2 separate regions of the Homo sapiens genome follow, and region 1 is linked to region 2. The links come from fine-mapping of genetic effects on gene expression. A gene starts in region 2. The other region holds a variant in brackets. All regions are shown on one strand. Distances are between the middles of the regions.

What was found. PIP is the estimated chance that this variant, and not a neighbour inherited with it, causes the effect.
Region 1: its variant is fine-mapped to the expression of NFE4 in whole blood (TOPMed, PIP above 0.99).

Annotation. Positions count from the first base shown.
Region 1 is chr7:102,688,124-102,696,456 of GRCh38, reverse strand. It overlaps LOC124901713 (a long non-coding RNA gene), which reads right to left and starts at 7,470. Exons shown (of 2, transcript XR_007060461.1): 1 at 7,373-7,470; 2 at 4,848-7,178. It also overlaps the pseudogene RASA4DP. The variant C/T (reference allele first, on the strand shown) is at 3,174.
Region 2 is chr7:102,969,656-102,977,988 of GRCh38, reverse strand. NFE4 (nuclear factor, erythroid 4) reads right to left here and starts at 4,559. Exons shown (of 3, transcript NR_166512.1): 1 at 4,218-4,559. The region is part of intron 7 of FBXL13 (F-box and leucine rich repeat protein 13); the gene reads left to right. RefSeq lists silencers at 1,286-1,447, 4,018-4,188 and enhancers at 3,868-4,381, 3,839-5,038.

The DNA.
Region 1 (8,333 bases), 280 kb after region 2:
CAGCAGCAGAGGTTCTGATCCTTGTGGAGCAGGGATACCCCATAGGCAGTGTACCTGGAATAGGAGCTCAGAGGCAGTTCTGCACTCAAATTTATATCCACTTTTAATTAGATGCAAATTAAGGACTGGTTTATGCAGAAATTTCTAGAATGAGGTTGGTAACTTGCAGGTTGTCGGGTTGATGCCATGGAAAGGGGCAGTAACTTCCTGATGTTACCATGGCAACAGTAAACTAACATGGCACACTGGTGTCTAATGGGGGAGGTGCTTCTGCCTCAGACCTCTTTTAGCTAGTCCTCAATTTGGTGTGATGTCCAAGCCCCACCTCCAAAGTCGAGTTCTGCCTCCTACCTCACTACTGTGTAAATATACCATAATTTGTTGATCCATTCTATTTTGTTTATAAAAATGGATTATTTCCTGTTTTGAAGATAATGAATAAAGTTCTGTGATCATTCTTATGCATGCCTTGTACTTAAGAATGAACTTATCTTGGGTATATACACAGGAGTGGGGTTAATCTGTCATAGTCTAGGTTTATATTCAGCTTTAGTAAAGACCTTCAATCAGTTTTCCAAAGAGGTTGAACCAGCATACACTCCAATGGGTATTATGTTAGATGCTGTCACATGTCCAGGGTTAATACAAGTGATAGCTTTCACGGTATTCCCTAGTTAGGATTTCTACTTCTATCTGTATGTGCTTATGTAAAACAGCACTGATTTATAAATGTGGCCTCACTTGTCAAGGGTCAGTGTGTCAGATGCTGAACTTTTCCACGACTTGGAGGCCGTAAAATCATTTTTGTCTTAATGCTGTGAGCCAAAATCAAAACATTAAATTATTTCGCCTAAGCGAAATAATTGGCTCTTTGCTTTTTACCAAGAGCCAGGCATCTCCTCCCTTCTCTTTATTTCCTGAAAATAATTATTGTTCCAATCATTGTTAAGTAAGTCTTTGACCTGACTTAGCCAAGGGGTGGAAAAAAGGAGGCATAGGAGCATTGCATTTGGGAGGCATAAAAGGGAGAACAAACATTGTAGGGAAACACCGAGGAAGTAAAACTACGAATCAAAATAGAATATGAAACTAAAAGTAGAGTGTGGATGTGTACCAATCATCATGGGCAATGATGAAGATGGATTAAGTTTGTTAATATATGACCTTTTCACGAAAACAGGTTATATATAAAACTATGAGTGGTTGTACTTCTTACAAAATATGTAATAGCAGCATTTGTGTCCAAGTTTCAGTTGCATGTCAGATTTGGTGAGTATTAAGATGTCAAGAACCTTGTGAACAATAATTTTGGACATTAAGTCTTAATCTATTTAAAAGATAAAAGATACAGCATTCACTATGTGCCAGGCACTGTGCTAGATGTTTATAATTATTATTACTAAAGCTACTGAAATTCATCCCTTCAACTCCTCCTTGGTTTTGAGCACCTCCTGTGTGCTGGATTATGCTAGATACCATGAGAATTTATGGACATAAAGCATAAAAAGGTTCCTATTCTTTAGAAGCATTATTTGTGAACAAGAAGATTGAAATATTAAATGTCAACAAAAGGCATATGATTTTGGACCCAGAGGATACAAGCAGTGTTATCAGAAGGGAAAGGGAGGCTTGACTGCTGTGGGATGAGACGGTCTAGAAAGGCTTTTAAGGCAGTAAGACATGAAAGGGGATATTGCATCCATATACACAGGGTCCACTATGAATCTGGTTTCTTTGCCCATACCCATGTATGCACATACTTGGAATATCTTCATGTAGATGACCCCAAAGTACCTCAAACTAAACATACTCACAACTAAATCCATTATCCTTCTCCGGAACCGAACTCTGCTCCTGGGTTCTGTCAGTTGGTTCTCTCTTGTTAATATCTCTTGAATTTGTGTTTTCCATTCCTACCATCTCACCAGTTAGAATGCCGTTTCAGTGATGAAGATGTGAAGAGAGACTGCACAGTGGCATTGGCAATGAGGAAAAAAGGAGTGAATACATTTAGGAGAGATGTTAAGGAAGTATAAAATTCTATAGACTTAGTGTCTGAGTGGATGGAGTGGGTGAGGAAAAGATTCTAAATTGATGCTTGGCATTCTGATTTAGGAAATCAGCCAAATTATGGCACCATACATGAGAGTTCAGAAGAAGCAACAGGTCTGAAGGGAATGTCCAGTATGTGGATCTGAGCCTATGGGGGAAGTCTCTGGCCAGAGGTGTAGTAGACACGGTAGGTTGTTGATATAGTAATCAGAATGCTTTCTGAAAGAATTGCAACTTGATACCTATGTATATTTAACAACACGGTCTACCACTGTGTATTTAAAAAAAGATGCTGCCATTGTTTACCTAATTTCATACTTGTAAAATTATCTTTTTTTATGAGGATATTCACATATTCAAAAGATGCTTTATTTTCTATATATTTTGTTCTCTTAAGGCTGGTACCAGATAAATAAATGTTGGTTTTTTAAATAAATTTCTTTGATGTAAAGTCTGTCTCTGTTGCCCAGACTGAAGTGCAGTGACACAATCTCAGCTCACTGCAACTTCTACCTTCTGGGCTCAAGCAATCCTCCCACCTCAGCCCCTGGAGTAGCTGGGACCACAGACACATAACACCAGGCCTGGCTGATTTTTGTATTTTATGTAGAGATAGAGTTTCACCATGTTGTCCAGGCTGGTCTCAAACTCCCGGGCTCAAGTGATCTACCCACCTCGGCCTCTCAAAATGCTGGGATTACAGGTGTAAACCCCTGCACCTGGCCTAAAATTAAACTAAAGTTTTAATTACTGAAAGTATCGGTGATTTGCTGACGCTACTAAAGCTTCATTTATTTTGTAGGTTGGACCTTCTATAGAGTTACTAATGAGCTTCTTGAGATAATCCCTAATGACATTTCAATTTTTTTCGAGGAATTAAATATTTTCTATTTTTTTATACCTTAAGTAACTGGTTATAAAGGGGAAAAGATAAGAACCCCACCCTCAAGGAGCTTACGAAGTAGTTTCAAGTATGTAAACTTACTTTTCAGAATGATTCTGTAATAGGAGGTTTGAGATATTGCTATTTCCATCTTAAAGATTCTGGAAGATTGAGACTCGCCCTGGGTTACACATCGGGGTGGAATTTGGAACCCAATCTTCCGTTTCCTGCTTCAGCG[C/T]GCATTTCACTTGACATTCACACATTTAAACACTGCTATTTTAGGTTTTACAATTTGACTTTTAAAGTAGACTGTGTATTAAAACAAAGATAACTATGTACACTCTGTTTAAATATTTCTAGTATGTTTCCCCATCCTCTCCTTAGTTATCACCCCTCACTAACAGCTGTACTTATAGGCTGTGCTTTAAAAAATGACCAATTTTCTTTTATAAACCTTCCTGCAAATCTTGCTATTATTGACATGTTTTCGCTTTTCCTTCAGACATCTAGGCACCCTTGCAAGAATAATAATTTTTCAAGATTTTCCTTGGCTGTCAAGAATCTTCAAAGAGACGGATAGTTTATTGAACAGTACAGATAGGTTCTATTGTTCCCATATTTTTGTTATTATTGTTTTTACTCTGACAGTGGGGTGGAAATTTAAAAACTTTTCCAGTATGGAAGAAGACCTTGTAATGCACTTAAATATTTGAGATATCAACATAACTAAATCCATTTACAAAGATTGAATATTGATGCTAAGATTATAAGAATACAGGCCATATTCCACTTTGCAAAGTAGATTAATACCCCTCAATTCAGTTAAATGGTACACTGCAGAAGAGGTCAGGGTAAGAGGAAAGAAGGCACTGTGTTAGGATGTCCTCCTCTTGGCATCTTTAAAATGACAAACATGGAGATTGATTTTGGCCAGGAATCTGGGGTATTGTCAGAACAACTCTATTTGAACAAGCTGTGCTTAGTGGTAAGAGGGAGTCAGAAGGATGTTGAAAAGGGGACAGAGAAGAAGAAAGATAAAGAAAAATTGGTCCTTTACCTCCTCACATACAATCTGTGAGATTATCTTCCTTAACTCATTCTGAAAAATCTTTCCTGAGCATCTACAATATGCCAAACCCAAGGCTAGGAATGGGAGGAAAACGCAGCAGTGGCCCTACCCTCAGTGGCCCATCTGTCCCTCTGTTTGTGTGGTTTATTTGCCTCTCTTCTCCTTTATCCTTTTCTAGTTCTTTACTGACATAATGAGATCCTAGTTTGTATGTGTATGTGCATGTGTTTAATTACATAGTTAATACATTTTAATCACCTCTTTATTTTTCATTGATTGTTAACTACTGTTGTAGCAACTTGATTAAATATTAAAAATAATAATCTAAACTTTGATACTGGCTTTCTAAATAGTCGCTGAACGGATGTTGCTCTTCAAAATAAGTACTAGGAGAAATAATAGTATTTTCTCCTTTGAGAGAAGGTTGGCTTTGGAAAGCTCGTGGCTCTTAGGTGAATGTGCATCTTGTAAAACAGTCTCTTTAGTAATGCAATCACTATTTTAATACATTGGGGACTAAAGATGGAAGCTTAAGGATTAAAATAAAATACCTTTTTCAACAAAAAATGTATTAATATATAGGTAGAGAGAGGGTACTGTTGTCTGTTGGGTAGATTCCTTGGCAAATAAACAGAAGGGAGTAGGATTGGGAATTTGTCCATCTGGTAACCAGACTTACAGGTAAATCAGTAAAATGAGTTAGCAGGAGTCAACCCAGTAAAGTTAGCTAAGACAAGACAATTACTAAAGTTTTCATTAGGCAAGCAAGATCAGGTTCTCAATGGTCAAGCAGTGAGATGCAAGCCAGACTAGGAAGTTAAGGAACAGAGTATCAGGGAATCATAAGAAAATTGTAATAAAATTTATTCAGCCATGGGGCTAGTTTTATTTATATAAAGCTATTTTAATATATAAAATATATACATAGTACAAAATCCAGAAGGTGCAGAATAGTAAACAACGAAAAGTCAGCCTTCTACCCCATTATACAATCTAAACTCCCCCTCCCAAGAGACAACCATAATTAACAATCTTTTATATAGCCTTGTAGAACATCTATGCACAAAGAAGTAAGTCGTAGTATAATATACACACTGTTTTTTTCACATATTTATACAATTTTTATTTTTTCAATGTATAGTATTTCAAGGCATGAATGGAACATGCTTTTTAAAACTAGTTCCTTATTATGAGACATTTAGGTCATTTCCAATCATCTGCTATTACAGATAATGATAGAGTGACTAACTTTATACATGCATCATTTAATACTGGAGTAGTCACTGAGCTTCAGAGAGAGCGACAGAGGGGGCTGGGACTTCGACTCCAGTGTTCTATCTCCATATTCAGAGCCCTTTAAGGTTAAGAATGTGGCTGGGCATAGTGGCTCATGCCTGTAATTGCAGCACTTTGGGAGGCTGAGGCGGGCGGATCACTTAAGGTCAGGAGTTCGAGACCAGCCTGGCCAACATGGCGAAACCCCATCTCTACTAAAAATACAAAAATTAGCCTGGCATGGTGGTGGGCACCTGTAATCCCAGCTACTGGGGAGGCTGAGGCAGGAGACTCACTTGAACCAGGAGCCAGAGGTTGTAGTGAGCTCACGCCACTGCACTCTAGCCTGGGCCCCGTGCTAGACTCCGTGCCCCGCACCCCCCCCCAAAGAGAATGTGTGTGTGATTAAAATTTAAGTTAGAGACAGTCTCACTATGTTGCCCAGGCTGGTCTCAAACTCCTGGCCTCAAGTGATCCTCCTGCCTTGGCCTCCCAAAGTGCTAGGATTACAAGGGCTAAGAATTCTAGTCATTCATTCACTCACTCATTCATTCATTCATGAATAAACAGTTTGCCCTGCATGTGTACCTGGCCCCCTCCTGGGCGGATACGGCAGGCAAACGGTGCAAGGGCGGCTGCCGGGAGAAGGTGGGCAGCTGGAGTGGGACTGGGGGAGACAGGATCAATGTGACCTGCGGTGGTCCCCAGGTGGCCGGGATGCAGTACCTGCACGGCGTCCTGGGCCCCATCATCAACAAGGTGTTTGAGGAGAAGAAGTACGTGGAGCTGGACCCCAGCAAAGTGGAAGTTAAGGATGTAGGGTGAGGCCGGGGGTAACTCCGGGGGTTGCGGGGTGCAGCGGCAGCGGGTTGGGATCAGGCCCTGTCAGCATGTGTGTTTGTGCTTCTGCCCACCCGTGTATTGTCCCCTGTGTCCGTGTCCTGGCTGCTGTGAGAGCCACTGTTCCTGTCGTGGCCCTGGCGCTGACCGCGACCTCCTCTGCCAACCCGCCCCGTTCCACGCAGGTGCTCCAGGCTGCACCGCCCGCAGACCGAGGCCGAGGTGCTGGAGCAGAGCGCGCAGACGCTGCGCGCCCACCTGGGGGCCCTGCTGAGCGCGCTCAGCCGCTCGGTTCGCGCGTGCCCCGCCGTGGTGCGCGCCACCTTCCGCCAGCTCTTCCGGCGCGTGCGCGAGCGCTTCCCCGGCGCCCAGCACGAGGTGCGCCCTCCACCCGCTGGGCTAGGCTGGGCCGGGTTGGACTGGGCTGGGGCGAGGAGTGAAGAGCGGTGGGGAACCAGGGAGCGCTGGGGAGGACCAGGGAGGCTGTGTCGCAGCGAGGGTCAGGGACAGAGCCTAAGGGGAGGGGGCTGCCAGGAGCCCTGGTCTGGGGGACTCCAGCCCGCGCTCTTCCGCACCCCTCCAGAATGTACCGTTCATCGCCGTCACCAGCTTCCTGTGCCTGCGCTTCTTCTCCCCCGCCATCATGTCGCCCAAGCTCTTCCACCTGCGGGAGCGCCACGCGGACGCCCGCACCAGCCGCACCCTGCTCCTGTTGGCTAAGGTGCGGGCCTTGCGGCCACGGGCGGGATGCACAGCTGGGTGTCCTACCGGGGCCCTGGCCTGGACTGCAGAGTGTTCCCTACCGGCTCCGGCGAGGCCACTGGCACGCCCACGTAGGCACTGCACTTCACAGTTTGCAAAGCCTTCCTGTGGCCACCTTGTCCGAGCTCCATCTCATGGATAAGGGAACAGGCCTGCGAGGGGTCGGGGGTTGCCAAGGCCGCCCATCCTGTCGGTGGTGAATCGCGGGACCTTCCAACCCGGGTCTGCTTACTCTCAGGCTGCACCTATGTGCCCGGCACCGGGGTGGGGTATCCAGTGCAGCAGCGTCAGTTAAACCTACAGAGGAAGGCCCAAGTGGTCTCAGTTATCATAAGGCATCAAACTTCATGATCCTCTCCTCCCTGATCCCTAGTGGGGCTGGAGGGGGCCCGTGGGCATGGCCTCTGTCGCCTCTGCCTCCATCGCTACAGCTGAGTAGCAAAGACTTGGGGAGGGGGGGTGGGAGGGGGTGCAGTGGCTAGGCCCCTAACCTAGCAGAACCTGGTCCTTCCTGCTGTCACCTCCAGGCAGTCCAGAACGTGGGCAACATGGACACGCCGGCTTCCAGGGCCAAGGAGGCTTGGATGGAGCCGCTGCAGCCCACCGTGCGCCAGGGCGTGGCGCAGCTGAAGGACTTCATCACCAAGCTCGTGGACATCGAGGAGAAGGACGGTGAGCGCCGCCCTGCACAGACCCGCCCACAGCCTACTGCTGACGTTTGCTCCGCCCTTGAGCCCCACGGCCCCACCCATCGCTGTTTGTTCCTCTCGTGGCCCCACCCACCGCCTGCTGTTGGCATTTGCCAGGCCCCCAGGCCATAGACCCACGCACCACTGTTTGTGCTTCCTGTGACCCTGCCCACTGCCTGCCGTTGACGTTTGCCCCACCCCTAGACCCATGGCCTCACCCCCGCATCATCTGCGCCTGTTGACATTTGCTCCATCCTTGAGCTCCATAGCCCCGCCGCCACCTGCTACTGACGCGTGTCCCGCCTCCAAGCCCATGGCCCTGCCTTCCTCAGTCCACCTGTCACCCCGCTCACCACCAGCTGTTGATGTTTGCTCCGCCCTTGAGCCCCATGACTACGTCCACTGCCTGCTGTTCAGATTTGCTCAGCCCTTGAGCCCCATGGCCCCTCCCACTGCTCCGCTCCCCCCAGTCCCGCCCTCATTCACTGGGCTCTCTATTCCCCTCCCTCCCTGGCCTGGCAGAGCTGGACCTGCAGCGGACGCTGAGTTTGCAGGCGCCACCTGTGAAGGAGGGGCCACTCTTCATCCACAGGACCAAGGGCAAGGGCCCCCTCATGTCCTCCTCCTTCAAGAAGCTCTACTTCTCCCTCACTACCGAGGCCCTCAGCTTCGCGAAGACGCCCAGCTCCAAGGTGGGTAAGGAGGGAGGCCGGCAAGTGGGGCTCTGAGAGGCCGGCAAGTGGGGCACCTGTCCCCTTCCTTG
Region 2 (8,333 bases):
GTATATCTCCTAATGCTATCCGTCCCCTCTCCCCCCACCCCACAACAGGCCCCGGTGTGTGATGTTCCCCTTCCTGTGTCCATGTGTTCTCATTGTTCAATTCCCACCTATGAGTGAGAATATGCAGTGTTTGGTTTTTGTCCTTGCGATAGTTTGCTGAGAATGATGGTTTCCAGCTTCATCCATGTCCCTACAAAGGACATGAACTCATCATTTTTTATGGCTGCATAGTATTCCATGGTGCATATGTGCCACATTTTCTTAATCCAGTCTATCATTGTTGGACATTTGGGTTGGTTCCAAGTCTTTGCTATTGTGAATAGTGCCACAATAAACATAGTTAACTGTAGCTTCAACAAGAGTTTTAATGGCTTTTATTATCAGTGGGATAACACGGGAGAAAAAGGAGGAGCCCAATGATGAAGATTACTGTCCTTATCAGCATTTTAAATCCTTCTAAATTAGAGAAACATCCTCCTAGAAGGTTTGCCAGGTCCCATCCTTTCCAGGTTTGGACTGGTACATGGGCTACTTTTCTGATGTTTGAAGCGATTTCTAGAACTGCTTTTCCATTATTGTCTATGTTAAGACAACAATTGGAGACATTAAAGTTACCACAGACTCCACCCTCTTCTGCTAATAAGTAGTCTAGTGCTAGCCTGTTTTGATAAATTGCCACGCACATTTGTTTTTGTCGTTGTGCGAGCATTTCCAGGACGGAGGCGGTTTGGTTAGTGATTATCTCTAGAACAGCCTGTAGCCTTAATTATTCTATTTAGCATATATATGGGAGTGCGATAACCCCATGAACCATCCTCCGCCCAAGTGGCAGGACCATAATATTCGATGATCCATTGCAGGGGCCACTCGTCCTCTTGCCGTCTTTGGCTTCCTCCTACCTTTAAGGATCGTTTTTCTCTGTTTAAGTGATCATACACAGGGACTCCATGGGTGTTGGGGTTTTCCCATGTAAAGGCAAAGAGGTTTTGGGAATCAGGGTGTAATGGAATTGTGAAAAAAGCATCCTTTAGGTCTAGAACAGAAAAATGGGTGGTATTGGAGGGAACTGCAGAAAGTAAAGTATATGGGTTAGGAGCTACTGGACATACTGGGAGTACAGCTTGGTTAATAAGCCTGAGGTCCTGGACTAAGCGATAAGTTCCATCTGGTTTTTTAACAGGTAGAATTGGTGTGTTAAAAGGGGAGTATGTTGGGCGGAGTAGGTGACTGGCGAGGAGGTGAGAAATGATAGGCGTTAGGCCTGTGAGAGCTGCTTGGGGGATGGGATACTGCTTCTGTGATAGGAACTGGGTGGGCTCTTTAAGGGTAATGTGGACGGACGGGAGTGTGGTGTTTTGCGACTGAGGGTGTGGAATTACCCCAAACAGGGGGGCTAACTACAGATGGGGGATAAGGAAAGGTTGCATGTTTTAAGGTGGGAGGTTGGAATAGAAGAAAGAAGCCCCAGAGGGGTTTGGGTTGATGCGTTGGGTATTATGGGGAACGTGGAAGTGGAGAGCAGTGTGGAGTTTTGAAAGGATGCCTTGGAGCGGAGTTGGGCATGAGGGCAGGACTAAGAAAGAGTGAGTGAAGGAAAAGGTGTGCAGGGAGCAGAAAAGTGGAGCGGGGGGCTCAGGGTTTGGAGGCTTGTTCATCAATTTCCACAATAGAGACTTGGGAGGACTGGGTGGGTCCTGAAAAATTAGGGAAAGCAGAATAGGTTGCCCTGGTATTAATTTTAAAAACATACTGGCCTACCTGCCACCATCAGGGTTACCCTTGGCTCAGATGAAGCGATGGTAGTTGCTGGGGTGTCTGTTCCAAGGCACTATCAGTCTTCAGCGGCAAGGCTGACGAGATCCGAGTAGGAGGGTTTGATTGGCTCAGGAAGGGATGGGGGTGGTCCTTGCAGGGGCCGCTCACAGTCCAACTTCCAGTGGGGTCCTCCGCAGAGGGGGCATGGCCTCGTGGGTTTACCTGGGTTTGGGCATTGTGTGGGCCAGTGGCCTTCATTGCCGCACTTGAAGCAGGCACCAGGTGGAGGTGGATTGCTAGGAGGCTTCTGTGTGGAGCTGTGGCCCCATGGCCTGCAGGGCCCCTGATGGAGGAGGCAAGCATTTGAAACCCTGCCTGTTTTTGCCTTTTACTTTCCTCATCACGATTGTTAAAGACTTTGAAGGCTAAATTAAGAAAGTCTCGTTGTGGGGTTTGAGGGCTGTTGTCAAGTTTTTGAAGCTGGCGCTGAATATTGGGGGTGGATTGGGAGATGAACTGAAGGTTTAAAATATCGGTTCCTTCTGGACTGGCTAGGTCTAGGTTGGTATATTTTCTCATGGCTTCAGTTAAACGAGAGATAAAAAGGGCTGGGTTTTCGTTAGGACCTTGGGTGATTTCTGAAAGTTTTTCATAGTTTACCACTTTATGGGCAGCCTTTTTGAGTCCTGCAAGGAGGCACACAATCATGTGGTCTCGACAGCAGCGTCCAGAGGCCCCATCTTGATAATCCCAGTGGGGGTCCTGGTTGGGGACTGCCTTTGCACCAGTAGGCTGAGCAGGAGCTTGGTGATGAATTGTATCAGCATGTACCTGAGTTAGGGTCCAGATACAGCCCCAGTCTTCTGGGGTGAGGGTGGAAGAGAGGATAATGTAGAGGTCATGCCAAGTTAGTTCATAAGACTGGGTGAGGTACTGAAACTCTCTAATGTAAGAGGTAGGGTCTTCTGGAAATGAACTGAGTCTTTTGTTAATTTGAGAGAGATCACTGAGGGAGAGGGGAACATAAACTTTAACAATGCCTCCAGTTCCTGCTACTTTCTGAAGGGGGCTCTCTAGCACAGGGGCTGAACTAAGGGTGGGGCATGGGCCAAAGATGGTGCCTGAGCGAGTATGGGTGGGAGAGAAGGAAGAACCTGAAAGTGGTTCCTGCTGAGGGTTTGAAGGGGGAAGGAGGGTTAAGTTGATAGGCAGTGGAGGATAGATAGGGGCGTAAGGTGGTGGGATGGGTTTACAGGCTTCAGGAGAGGGCAGTGAGGAAGGAGAATGAGTAATGAGTACAGACAATGCTAGAATTGTCCTGAGGAGAGGACAGTGTAGGAAAAGAAGTGGATACTGCTGCTTGGGAAGATGGGGGCTGGGAAGATGGCGACTGGGAAGATGAAGGCTGAGAAGATCGCAGCTGAGAAGATAAAGAGGAGGCTTAGGGGGTTAAAGAAGACGGCTGAGAGGGAGAGGCAGGGGCTGAGAGGAATGGACAGCAGTCTGCTGGATCTAACGAGGAAAATATGTCGAGTTGGGAGGAGAAAGGTGATCTGGGTGGCGAGAATAGAGGAGGATTTGAACAGGTGAGCAAGAATTACAGAGGTCGGGTTGTGATCTGAGTGCAAACAGGGCTGGACATAAGGAGTTTTTCCCCATTTCTCCAGTCGTCAGCAATAATTGCTTAAATCAGTTAAAATTGTAAAGTCGAATGTTCTATTTGCGGGCCATTAGGACCCATTATTCAATTCGTATTGTGGCCAGTCTGAATTGCAAAAAAAGACAAGGAGGATGGATATCTTGCCTGAGGCCTAAGGTTTGCAGGTTTTTGTTTGTTTGTTTGTTTTACGGACTCTCACTCTGTCGCCCAGGCTGGAGTGCAGTGGTGTGATCTTGGCTCACTGCAAGCTCTGCCTCCCGGGTTCACACCATTCTCCTGCTTCAGCCTCCTGAGTAGCTGGGACTACAGGTGCCTGCCACCATGCCCGGCTAATTTTTTGTATTTTTAGTAGAGCCAGGGTTTCACCGTGTTAGCCAGGATAGTCTTGACCTCCTGACCTGGTGATCCGCCCACCTCACCCTCGCAAAGTGCTAGGATTACAGGCATGAGCCACCGCACCTGGCCAGGTTTACAGGTTTTTTATGAGGCAGCCTAGAGGGCTGTTTTTTGGAATTGAGGATGGGGAGTTTCCCATAACTGAGGGTAGGCTCGGGAAAACAGGGAAAAAGGAGACCATCCTGGATGGTGGAGGGAGACGATGAAAGGAGCGATCGTCACCGCTGCCTTTTTCGTTCCCGGAACGGGATCAAATGGCTTAGAGGCGTCCCCCTAAGACCAGATGATCAGCAAGTACCTGGCACACGTCGGAGCCTTCTTGGACCAATGTTGGATTTTCAGACTGGAGAAACCAAGAGAGGCTGTATGGATTTTTCCTTGTTAACCGGGCTCCCGGGAAACTTACCAGTAGGTGAGATCAGTGACTGATGTGCATGCACAGAGAAGCAACTGGAGGCTGAGGAGCTTCCTTTGTCCGGCTGCTGTGGCCTGCTTTCTGGGGCGGAGGGGTAGGTCCACGGGGGACGAAGACCGGAGCCCCTCCCGGGTTTCGGCACCAGATGAAAGATTCTTGTATCCGTTCAAACTCTTGAGAGTGTGCCAACAGACAACACGAGGCAGTGTGGAGCAACCTGCTGTTTTAATGAGCGCCTGGGTGCAGGCAGGCTAAGGCCTAAAATGGCGTCAGCACCAAATGAGTAGGGGGCAGGGTTTTATAGTCTTCCGTAAACAGGAATTGTCCCAGTCTGATGTAACTGCTATGTGGTACCCAGATGGCCTGTTTCTCGATCTTCAGGGGTACGTGTCTTCCGGCCAGGGTAGGTGTCTTCTGGCCGGCTCTCTTCCTGCTTCTGCTATCTTGCTGACTCACGCTGCTGGTACAAGTGGCCTTGTGCCTTGGGACTGGGCCTGAGAAGAGAGGAGTTACTCATTCCTTCAAGCTTTCGGGCGTTGGGGAGAATCTTTCAAAAACAAAATGAACACAAATGAAAGGAAGGCTGATAACCATCATTTTACTCGTTACTTCCGTAAGTCCAACATTTTAAAATTTCACATAGAAGTGAAATCATGGAGAATTTGTCTTTCCGTGCCTGAAAGTGTAGATTTTAAATGTTTTCTTCACACACAAAAATGATAATTATGTGAGGTGGTGATTTCTTAATTATTAACCTGATTTAATCATTCCACATTATAAACATAAATCAAAACATCACATTTTAACCATAAATGCATTTTAATTATTATTTGTCAATTAAAAATAAAACTAAGAAAAGAAAATAGATAGCTACATTAATATTGGGGGAAAAACATTAAAGCAAAAAGCATTTTTAGGAATAAAAAATTTTTGTCTTCTAACCAATACATTTTGTTAAATTTATTATGATTATTGATATACTTGGGTTCATTTTTCTAATTTCATTTTATACTATTTATTATCTTTTTATTTATTATTTATTATCTTTTTATATGTTTTATTTTTCCCCTTTCCTGACTTTATTGAATTTTTAAAAAATAAAAACGTTTAAAGTAATTTCAATAGCTTCTGGGATAGATGTGGTTTTTGGTTACATTGATGAATGGTATAGTGGTGAAGTCAGATTTTAGCGCACCCATTACCAAGTAGTGTACTATTTATTGAGTATTTAAATCTACCCCCTTTTTTCTACTTTCATGTTTTAGATGATATACATTCTATTTCTATGATTTTACTGGTTACTCTTAAATATTTTTAACATGTTGTAGAAGATAACCATTCTATTTCTACTATTTTACTGGTTACTCAAATATTTTTAATGTGTACATTTATTAATAAGGCCTAAAGTAAATTAATATTTATACTTTCTTCTTGAAGAATAATTGAAATTTAGAACACTAACTCTTGATTACTCTCTCTGGTGTTAGAGTGTTATTATTATCTAGTGTTTTTGTTCCATCTTATTGTTCTACCCCCACGTTTTCATCATGATACTGTTTTATAAAGTTAATGGCTTTACCCATATACTTATTAGATTTTTTGCCCATTGTTATTATTTGCATTTCATGCCTTTCTTCTGATTTCAGTGTTCTTTAGAAGTTCCTTTGTGAAGGGTCCATTGGAAGCAAACTCTCAGTCTATGTCTCAAAGTGTCTTTAAATTTTTTTTTTTTTTTTTGAGATGGACTCTCACTCTGTCTCCCAGGCTGGAATGCAGTGGCACAATCTTGGCTCACTGCAACCTCTGCCTCCCTGGTTCAAGCGATTTTCCTGCCTTAGCCTCCCAAGTAGCTGGGATTACAGGTGCATGCCACCACACCCAGCTAATTTTTGTATTTTTAGTAGAGATGGGGTTTTGCCATGTTGGCCAGGCTGGTCTCGAACTTCTGACCTCAGGTGATCCGCCCACCTTGGCTTTCCAAAGTGCTGGGATTACGGGCATGAGCCACTGTGCCTGGCCTTAAATTTTTTAGAGACAGAGTCTTGCTATGTTACCCAGGCTGGCCTTCAATTCTTGGGCTCAGGTAATCTTGCCTCAGCCTCTCAAGTAGCTGGGACTACAGGTGTACTACCATGCCTGGCAAAAAATGTCTTTTTTTTTTTTTTTTTGAGACGGAGTTTCGCTCTTATTGCCTAGGCTGGAGTGCAATGGCACAATCTTGGCTCACCGCCACCTCCGCCCGGGTTCAAGCGATTCTCCTGCCTCAGCCTCCCAAGTAGCTGGGATTACAGGCATGTGCCACCACGCCTGGCTAATTTTGTGTTTTTAGTAGAGAGGGGGTTTCTTCATCTTGGTCAGGCTGGTCTCGAACGCCCAACCTTAGGTGATCTGCCTGCCTCAGCCTCCCAAAGTGCTGGGATTACAGGTGTGAGCCACTGCACTCAGCCAAAAATGTCTTAATACTCATTTTTGAGTTGTAATTTACTTGCATATGGTATCTCAGATTGATAGTTTCTGCTGACTTCCACCTTATGTTGTTCTGTCTACGTGACAGTCTTTTGTACGTAATCTGTGTCAAATTGCCTGAAAAATTTTCCTGTGCTTTGGCCTTTTGCAGTTTCACTTATAATGCCATTGATATATTTTCATTTTCCTGCTTGGAACTTCCTGTGCTTTTTGAATCTGAAAAGTGTTGCCTTTCATCAGTTCTAAAACATTTTAGTCTGTGGTATTTTTAAATTTTGCTTTGATTTTATTCTCTTTATTCCCTCCTGGAAATTCTGTAAAGATGTGTGTTGGACCTTTTCATGTTATGTAATGTGTCTCTTAGCATCCTTTATATTTTTCATCTCTTTATTTCTCTACATTTTATCCTGTGTAATTTCTTCAGGTACATATTCATTTGTTGATTCTCTTCTTAGCTGAGTCGCATCTGCTATTTAACTCACCCACTGAGTTTTAAATTTCAATAACTATATTTTTAATTTTCATGATTTTATTTGGTTCTTTTACAGATCTTCCCAGTCCTGTTTTGACAACATTTGTCTCAAGAGTTTTATTTTTCTTTTTATGTCTTCATCACTTTAAAGGTTTCTTTTGAATCTTGTTGGACTTCCTTTTCCTCGTGTGTTTTGCAGTTTTTGATTGGGAGCTTGTTTTTGGAGGGCTTAATCCATGGGTATCCTGTAAGGCCTGGCTTGACTGTGTCTGTCTCTTTAGAGAGAATGATATTTATTTCTGCCAAATGTCCCAGAGTTATTACCAGTGGAACCTCTTTGCACATTAATATATCAAATCCATTTACAAAGGTAACAAATTCAAATTGGATCCCAGGCATGATGAAATTTAAATCCCAACACACATAATCGCTGGCCTTTGGTTACAAACTCTTTTTTTCTTTTCATTCATTTTTTTAAAAAAAATGAATTTATTATTATTTCTGTTTAACCCAAACCAAAAATGGTCAATATGGTTACAAATTCTTTGAGAGATTTTATTTTATTTTATTTTTTGAGACAGAGTCTTGCTCTGTTGCCCAGGCTGGAGTGCAGTCGCATGACCATGGCTTACTGCAGCCGCAGCCTCCCAGGCTCAAACAATTCTCCCGTCTCAGCCTCTAGAGTAGCTAGGACTATAGGTGTGCACCACCATATATGACTAATTTTTAAATTTTTAGTTGAAATGGGGTTTCACTATGTTGCCCAGGCTAGTCTTGAACTCCTGGGCTCAAGCAAGCCTCCCACCTCAGCCTCCTAAAGTGCTGGAATTATAGGTGTGAGCCACTGTGCCTGGCGAGAGATCTTTTTGATACCAGGCTAGATACCTTAGTTTTTCTTTTGCCAGTATGGTTGATTTCTTTTCTTTTCTTTTCTTTTTTCTTTTCTTTCCTTTTCTTTTCTTTTCTTTTCCCTCCCCTCCCCTCCCCTCCCCTCCCCTCTCCTCCCTTTCCTTTCCCTTCCCCTTTTTGGACAGAGTCTTGCTCTATTGCCCAGGCTGGAGTGCAGTGGTCCAATCTCAGCTCACTGCAACCTCCACCTCCTGGGTTCAAGCAGTTCTCCTGCCTCAGCCTCCCGAGTAGCTGGGATTACAGACGTGTGCAATAATTTT